2 linked regions of the Homo sapiens genome follow. The protein of the gene in region 1 purifies or fractionates together with the protein of each later gene. This does not show direct contact. Each region holds a gene or a part of one and is shown on either strand. Other genes may lie near its edges. The genes, in order: MGRN1 and HSDL1.

Region 1 (3,813 bases):
TACCCAACAGATGCCCCCAGCTGTGACAATCACAAATGTCTCCAGACATGGCCAAATGTCCCTTGAGAGGGCAAAAATGCCCCAGTTGAGAACTTCTGGGACACACATAAATCAATGGAACAGAATGGAGAGTCCCAAAATAAACCCTCACATTCATGGTTAACTGGTGGGGTTCTTGTCGCTGTTGTTTTGATTTTTAAGAGACATGGTCTTGCTTTGTTATCCAGCCACAATGCCTGGCTTAGGTCAACTAATTTTTGACAAAGGTGCAAAGGCAATTTGATGGGAAGATGATAGTCTCTACAACAAATGATACTAAAATAATTGAATTCCATCCACAAAAAAGGGGGGTTTAGATCTTTATCTCAAGCCATAAGTGAAACAAATTAATTTGGTCAGCTACAGCGGCTCACACCTGTAATCCCAGCACTCTGGAAGGCCAAGGTGGGCAGATTGCTTGAGTCCAGGACTTTGAGGCCAGCCTGGACAACACGGTGAAACCCTGTCTCTACAAAAAAAATACAAAAACTTTGCTGGGCATAGTGGTACACATACATAGCTGGGAAAACCCAGCTACTTGGGAGGCTGAGGTGGGAGAATCACCTGAGCCAGGAAGTCAAGGCTAGAGTGACATCATGCCGCTATACTCTAGCCTGAATGACAGAGTAAGACCCTATCTCAAAATTAAAAAAAAAAAAAAAAAAAAGAATTAACTCTAAATGGATCAAAGACCTAAATGTAAGAGCTAAAACTATAAAACTTCTAGAAAAGGCCGGGCACAGCGGCTCACGCCTGTAATCCCAGCAATCTGGGAGGCCAAGGCAGGCAGATCACAAGGTCAGTTTGAGATCAGCCTGGCCAATATGGTGAAAACCCCGTCTCTACTAAAAAATCCAAAAATTAGCCGGGCGTGGTGGCTCGCACCTGTAATCTCAGCTACTCAGTAGGCTGAGGTAGAAGAATCGCTGGAACCCGGGCAGAGGCTGCAGTGAGCTAAGATCATGCCACTACACTCCAGCCTGGGTGACAGAGGGAGACTCCATCTCAAAAAAAACCAACAACAACAACAACAACAAAATGCTAGAAAAAAATAGGAGAAAATCTTTGTGACCTTGACCTAGGCAAAGATTTCTTTTCTTTCTATTTGTTTTTTTTTTTTTGAGACGGCGTCTCACTCTGTCGCTCAGGCTGGAGTGCAGTGGCATAATCTCGGCTCACTGCAACCTCTGCCGCGCTCCGGGTTCCAGCGATTCTTCTGCCTCGGCCTCCCAATTAGCTGGGACTACAGGCACATGCTGCCACACCCAACTAATTTTTTGTATTTTAGGAGACATGGAGTTTCACCATGTTGCCCAGGCTGGTCTCAAACTCCTGAGCTCAGGCAATCCACCCATCTCAGTCTCCCAAAGTGCTAGGATTACAGGCGCGAGCCACTGCACCTGCGCTTTTTTTTTTTTTTTTTTTTTGAGATGGTGTCTCACTGTTTGCCCAGGCTGCAGTGCAGTGGCATGATCTTGGCTCACTGCAACCCAACTCCACCTCCCAGGTTCAAGCAATTCTCCTGACTCAGCCTCCTGAGTAGCTGGGATTACGGGCGTGCGCCATTGCGTCCAGCTCATTTTTGTATTTTTAGTAGAGACGAGGTTTCACCTTGTTGGCCAGGCTGGTCTCGAACTCCTGACCTCAGGTGATCCGCCCACCTCAGCCTCCCAAAATGCTGAGATGACAGGCATGAACCACCACACCCAGCCGCCTGTATGATTTTTTTTTTTTTTTTGAGACGGTGTCTCGCTCTTTCACCAGGCTGGAGTGCAGTGGCGCGATCTAGGCTCACTGCAACCCCCGCCTCCCGGGTTCAAACAATTCTCCTGCCTCAGCCTCCTGAGCAGCTGGGACTACAGGTGTGTGCCACCACGCCCAGCTAATTTTTGTATTTTTAGTAGAGATGGGGTTTCACCATGTTGGCCAGGATGGTCTCAATCTCTTTACCTCATGATCCGCCCACCTTGGCCTCCCAAAGTGCTGGGATTACAGGCGTGAGCCACCATGCCTGGGCCCAAGATTTCTTAAACATAACTCCAAAAGCAGTATCCACTTAAAAAGCAGTAAATGAGACTTCGTCAAAATTCAAAACTTTTGCTCTTCAAAAGAAACACCATTAAGAAAATTAAAAGACAAGCCAGACTGGGAGAAAATATTTGCAAATCACATGGCTGACAGGAGAATCCTATCCAGAACACATAAAGAACTCTTTGTTACAACTCCGTAAGATAAACAATCCAGTTTTTGAAAATTGGACAAAAGACTCAAATAGACACTTTTCACACACACACACACACACACACACACACACACACACACACATACGAACAGAAAGCAGGCCAGGTGCAGTGGCTCACCCCTGTAATCCCAGCACTTTGGAGGCTGAGGTGGGCAGATCACCTGAGGTCGGGAGTTCGAAACCAGCCTTCCCAACATAGTGAAACCCCGTGTCTACTAAAAATACAAAAATTAGCCTGGCATAGTGGCCAGTGCCTATAATCCCAGCTACTTGGGAGGCTGAGGCAGGAGAATCACTTGAAACCAGGAGGCAGAGGTTGCAGTAAGCCAAGATTGCACCACTGCACTCCAGGGCAACAGAGCGAGACTGTCTCAAAAAAAAACAGAAAAGGCTGGGCATAGTGGCTCACACCTGTAATCCTAGCACTTTGGGAGGCCAAGGCAGGCAGATCACCTGAGGTCAGGAGCTCGAGACCAGACTGGCCAATATGGTGAAACCTCATCTGTACCAAAAATTTAAAAATTAGCCGGGCGTGGTGGTGCGCACCTGTAATCCAAGCTACTCAGGAGGCTGAAACAGGAGAATTGCTTGAACCCAGGAGGCGGACGTTGCACTGAGCCGAGATCATGCCACTGCATTGCAACCTGGGCGACAGAGCAACACTCCATCTCAAAGAAAAAAGAAAGCAGATCGCTGATGGGCTGAGGGTGGGGGTTGGGGTAGGGACTCTGCAAACAGATGGAAGGAAACTTTTACAAGGGAAATGTCTGCAATTGTGGTGATGACTGCACAATTCTTTTTTTTGTTGTTGTTGCTTCAATGTCCCCTCCTTTTTTTTTTTTTTTTTTGGAGACAGAGTCACACTCTATCGCCCAGCTGGAGTGCAATGGCGTGATCTCGGCTCACTGCAAGCTTCACCTCCCGGGTTCATGCCATTCTCCTGCCTCAGCCTCCCGAGTGGCTGGGACTACAAGCGCCTGCCACCACACCTGGCTAATTTTTTGTATTTTTAGTAGACATGGGGTTTCACCGTGTTAGCCAGGATGGTCTCGATCTCCTGACCTCGTGATCCGCCTGCCTCGGCCTCCCAAAGTGCTGGGATTACAGGCGTGAGCCACCGCACCCACCCACAATTCTTTTTTTTTTTTTTTTTTGAGACGGAGTCTCACTCTGACACCTAGGCTGGAGTGCAGTGGCGCAGTCTCGGCTCACTGCAACCTCCGCCTCCTGGGTTCACACCATTCTCCTGCCTCAGCTTCCTGAGTAGCTGGGACTACAGGTGCCCGCCACCACACCCAGCTAATTTTTTGTATTTTTGGTAGAGATGGGGTTTCACGGTGTTAGCCAGGATGGTCTTGATCTCCTGACCTTGTGATCCACCTGCCTCAGCCTCCCAAAGTGCTGGGATTACAGGCGTGAACCACCGCGCCCAGCCTTTTTTTTTGAGACGGAGTCTCGCTCTGTCACCCAGGCTGGAGTGCAGTGGCGCAATCTCGGCTCACTGCAGCCTCCACCTCTCAGCTTCAAGCAAT
Region 2 (3,813 bases), about 80 Mb from region 1:
TGGCTCCCACCTGTAATCCCAGCACTTTGGGAGGCCAAGGCAGGTGAATGGTTTGAGCTTACGAGTTTGAGACCAGCCTGGGCAACATGGTGAAACCTCATCTCTACACACACAAAAAAAATTTAACTGGGCTTGGTGGTACATGCCTGTGTCCCAGCTACTTGAGATGCTGAGGTGGGAGGATGGCTTGAGCCCGGAAGGCGGAGGTTGCAGTGAGCTGTGATCATGCCACTGCACATCAGGCTGGGCAATAGAGCCAGACCTTGTCTCAATAATAATAACAACACATTTAGTTCATGAAAGACACTATAATGAGACACAAAACATACAGAGAGCTAGTATCTAGAATATTTAAAGAATTCTTACAATTCTGAGAGAAAAAAAAGGAAAGGACAAAAGATAGGAACGGGCATTTCATAGATTACAAAACACAGAAAGCACATACATATAAAAAGGACTGCAGCCTTACTAGTAACCAGGGAAATGTAAATTAAAACCATAATGAGATACCATTTCACAGCCACCCTGTTGGCAGAAGGTGAAGCTTTGGACGCTACCAGCCAGTGACATTGAGGAGTGGCACGAACCTGCTGCTGGCGGGAGTGTGAATGGGTTCTGCCGCTTTGCAAAAGCATTTGGCAGTGGAATGCATGTGGACCAGCAGTTAAACCATGGGCAAATCCCTTTGCGAACTCTTGCACAGGTGTGCAGGAGATGGGGACAAGCGCTCCCTGCAGCACTGTTCCTAACTGTAAATCAAAACCAGCAGAAACAGTGCACGTGCCTAGCACCAGCAGCAGGGGGACCTGTGAATCGTGGTGTATCTGAACCAGCAGCAGGGGGACCTGTGAATCGTGGTGTATCTGAACCAGCAGCAGGGGGACCTGTGAATCGTGGTGTATCTGAACCAGCAGCAGGGGGACCTGTGAACTGCAGTGCATCTGAACCGTGAGATACTGTGCAGCTGCCGAGGAGGATGGACTATATAGCTGCAGGGGCATGGATGAGTCTCGGGAATGATGTTGAGTGAAAGAAACAAGTCACCAAAGGGTCCATGTGGTGTGGTTCCTTTATGTGAGGTTCAAAACCAGGCGAAACTTAGCAATACTGTTTTTTTTTTTGTTTGAGACGGAGTCTCGTTCTGTCGCCCAGGCGGGAGTGCTGTGGCGCGATCTCCGCTCACTGCAAGCTCCGCCTTCCGGGTTCACGCCATTCTCCTGCCTCAGCCTCCCGAGTAGCTGGGACTACAGGCGCCCACCACTGCGCCCGGCTAATTTTTTGTATTTTTAGTAGAGACGGGGTTTCACCGTGGTCTCGATCTCCTGACCTCGTGATCCGCCCGCCTCGGCCTCCCAAAGTGCTGGGATTACAGGCGTGAGCCACCGCGCCCGGCCAGCAATACTGTTACTGTTTCAGAATACATGCTTGGGGTATACAGCTGTTTTGTTAAAAGAGTCAGGGAGTGACTACCCCAGAATTTAGGAGAGAGGCTGCCTCCAGGATAGAGGAGGGGCTGTAATCAGAGGAACAGCATACAGGACTTCCACGACACTGGTTTTGTTAAGTAGGCTGGTGGCTAAGTGGCTGTTTTATTATTCTTTGAACTGTGCATAATAGGTTTTACATACTTTTGTATATATTTAAACATTTTTGCCAGGTGCAGTGGCTCACGCCTGTAATCCCAGCACTTTGGGAGGCCGAGGTGGGTGGATCACTTGAGGTCAGGAGTTCAAGACCAGCCTGACCACCATGATGAAACCCCATCTCTACTAAAAATACAAAAATTAGCTGGGCATGGTGGAGGGCACCTGTAGTCCCAGCTACTCGGGAGGCTGAGGCAGGAGAAACGCTTGAACCCAGGAGGCGGAGGTTGCAGTGAGCAGAAATTGCACCATTGCACTCCAGCCTGGAAGACAGAACAAGACTCGGCCTAAAAACAAAAATTTCTTTTAGTTACAGAAAAATTCGTTTTCTATACATCTCCTGCCCTCCAGAGGCCTGTGCTCTCCTTGGACAACCAAGAAACCAAGATATAAGCAAGTTGAGTGTTTAAATAGAATCCAAAGCAGTGTGTGCTAAGTGCCACATGGGTAAGAGAGGTGGAGAGGAATTCAGAGGTGGGGGCAGTGCCACGGCCTGGGAAGGGAAGGGACAGGAAGGGAAGTTTCTCCCCAGGGCTGACATGTTGTTGGTGCTTGTTAGGAAGTGATTGAACGGAGGAGAAGACATGGGACTTGAAACGTCAGGAAGAACAGAGGATTTGGAGTACTGAGCACAAGACAGATTCACACTCTGAAAAAATTAAGATTTATTTGGAAAAATGTTTTCATCAATGAAAACAGCCATCGCCCTGGAGCCTTACTGAAAAGCTGGATAATCCCAGCTGGTGAGGAGGAGGACCTCAGGTCTACCCTGGTCAGTCAAAGATGGCAGGAACCTCTGAGACTTTCTGGCTCCTGAATACACATAGTGGTTTTGGCTTAAGGGAGGTTGCAGAGTTTTCAGCTTGTCTCTTCGCTGTCCTGAAAGCTGAACTGACTGTTCATCCATCCCTTCCTCCCACTGTTTATCCTTATCCCCTGTGGCTGATGTAACAAATTGCCACAAAGGTAGTGGCTTAAAATGACACAGATGTCTCTTCCTTCTGGAGATGGGAATCTGAAGTCATTGTGACTGCGCTAAAGTCAAGGTGTCAGCAGGGCTGTGTTCCTCTGGAGGCTCCAGGGGAGAATCCTTTTCCTTGCCTCTGCCAGCTTCTAGAGGCCACCCCCCGTCCTTCACTGGTGACCCACCCCTCTCTCTATTATCGAAACCAGCAGCACAGAGCACCCTCAACTCGAGCTCTCTCTGACCTCTCCCTTTGTAGTCACATGGCTCTCTCTCTTTGATCTTCCTGCCCCCCTTACAAGGACACATGATGACATTGGACCCACCCTCCCCAGCTCGGAGTCTTTAACTCAGTCACATCTACGGAGTCCCTTTGGCCACATAAGGTGACGTATTTACAGGGTCTGGGGATTAGGCTGTAGATATCCCTGGAGGCCATTACTGTGCCCACCACACTGTCGTTCGCTAATGCTTTGATTGTCTTTTTTTCCATCCTGCTTGCTTTGTCTTCTTTAAAACCCTGGCCAGTCTGCCTTGTGTTCTTTCACCACCCGCCCCACGTCACACGCATTTGGATAGCTTGGTAATGTCCATGTTTCAGCCAAGACTTTCCTCCCAGAACTCTTGGTACATGAAGGTTTTTCTATTTGAGTTGATTGCCCTTTACACTGCTAGGTGGAGTCCCCTTCACTGTGGAGTGGGATCATGTTACAGGCCACAGCAGTGGTGCTTTGAAGAGGTGACTTTGCTACTTGCAGTTTTGACCATAATTGTCCCGTGACGCTTTTGTAGTTGTAACGTTTCCTGTAGGTTTTTGATGACTCCTGCCCTGTAGAAGTAGAAAATGCTTAAAAGATAATAGGGACTTGCTCTTCTTTTCCTAGTTTGGGGACAGTTGTGGTTTTGTTTTGTTCACAGATGTTTTAGTTTTCTGCAGAGATGAGAAAACAAAGCTTAAAAATTTTTTTAAATTATTTTATATTTTTCCAACTTCATCGAAGTATAATTGACAAATAAAATTATATAAATTTAAGGTGTACAACATGATTTGATATATGTATACTTTGTGAAATGATCACCACAACCAAATTAGTTAACACATTCATCACCTCAGTTACTTTTTTATTTCTTTATGGTGAGAACACTTGAGATCTACCCTCTAAGCAGATTTTAAGCCTACAATTTGGTATTGCTCACTATGGTCAC

The links.
Region 2: the proteins of MGRN1 (region 1) and HSDL1 purify together in Homo sapiens (affinity purification with mass spectrometry; one large-scale study listed by BioGRID and IntAct). This does not show direct contact.

What each region holds. Positions count from the first base shown.
Region 1 is NC_000016.10:4,627,702-4,631,514, reverse strand, and holds part of MGRN1 (E3 ubiquitin-protein ligase MGRN1), read right to left. Parts: intron 1-3,813. UniProt on the Homo sapiens protein: E3 ubiquitin-protein ligase. Mediates monoubiquitination at multiple sites of TSG101 in the presence of UBE2D1, but not of UBE2G1, nor UBE2H. Plays a role in the regulation of endosome-to-lysosome trafficking.
Region 2 is NC_000016.10:84,138,403-84,142,215, reverse strand, and holds part of HSDL1 (inactive hydroxysteroid dehydrogenase-like protein 1), read left to right. Parts: intron 1-1,958; exon of another isoform or gene 1,959-2,993; intron 2,994-3,813.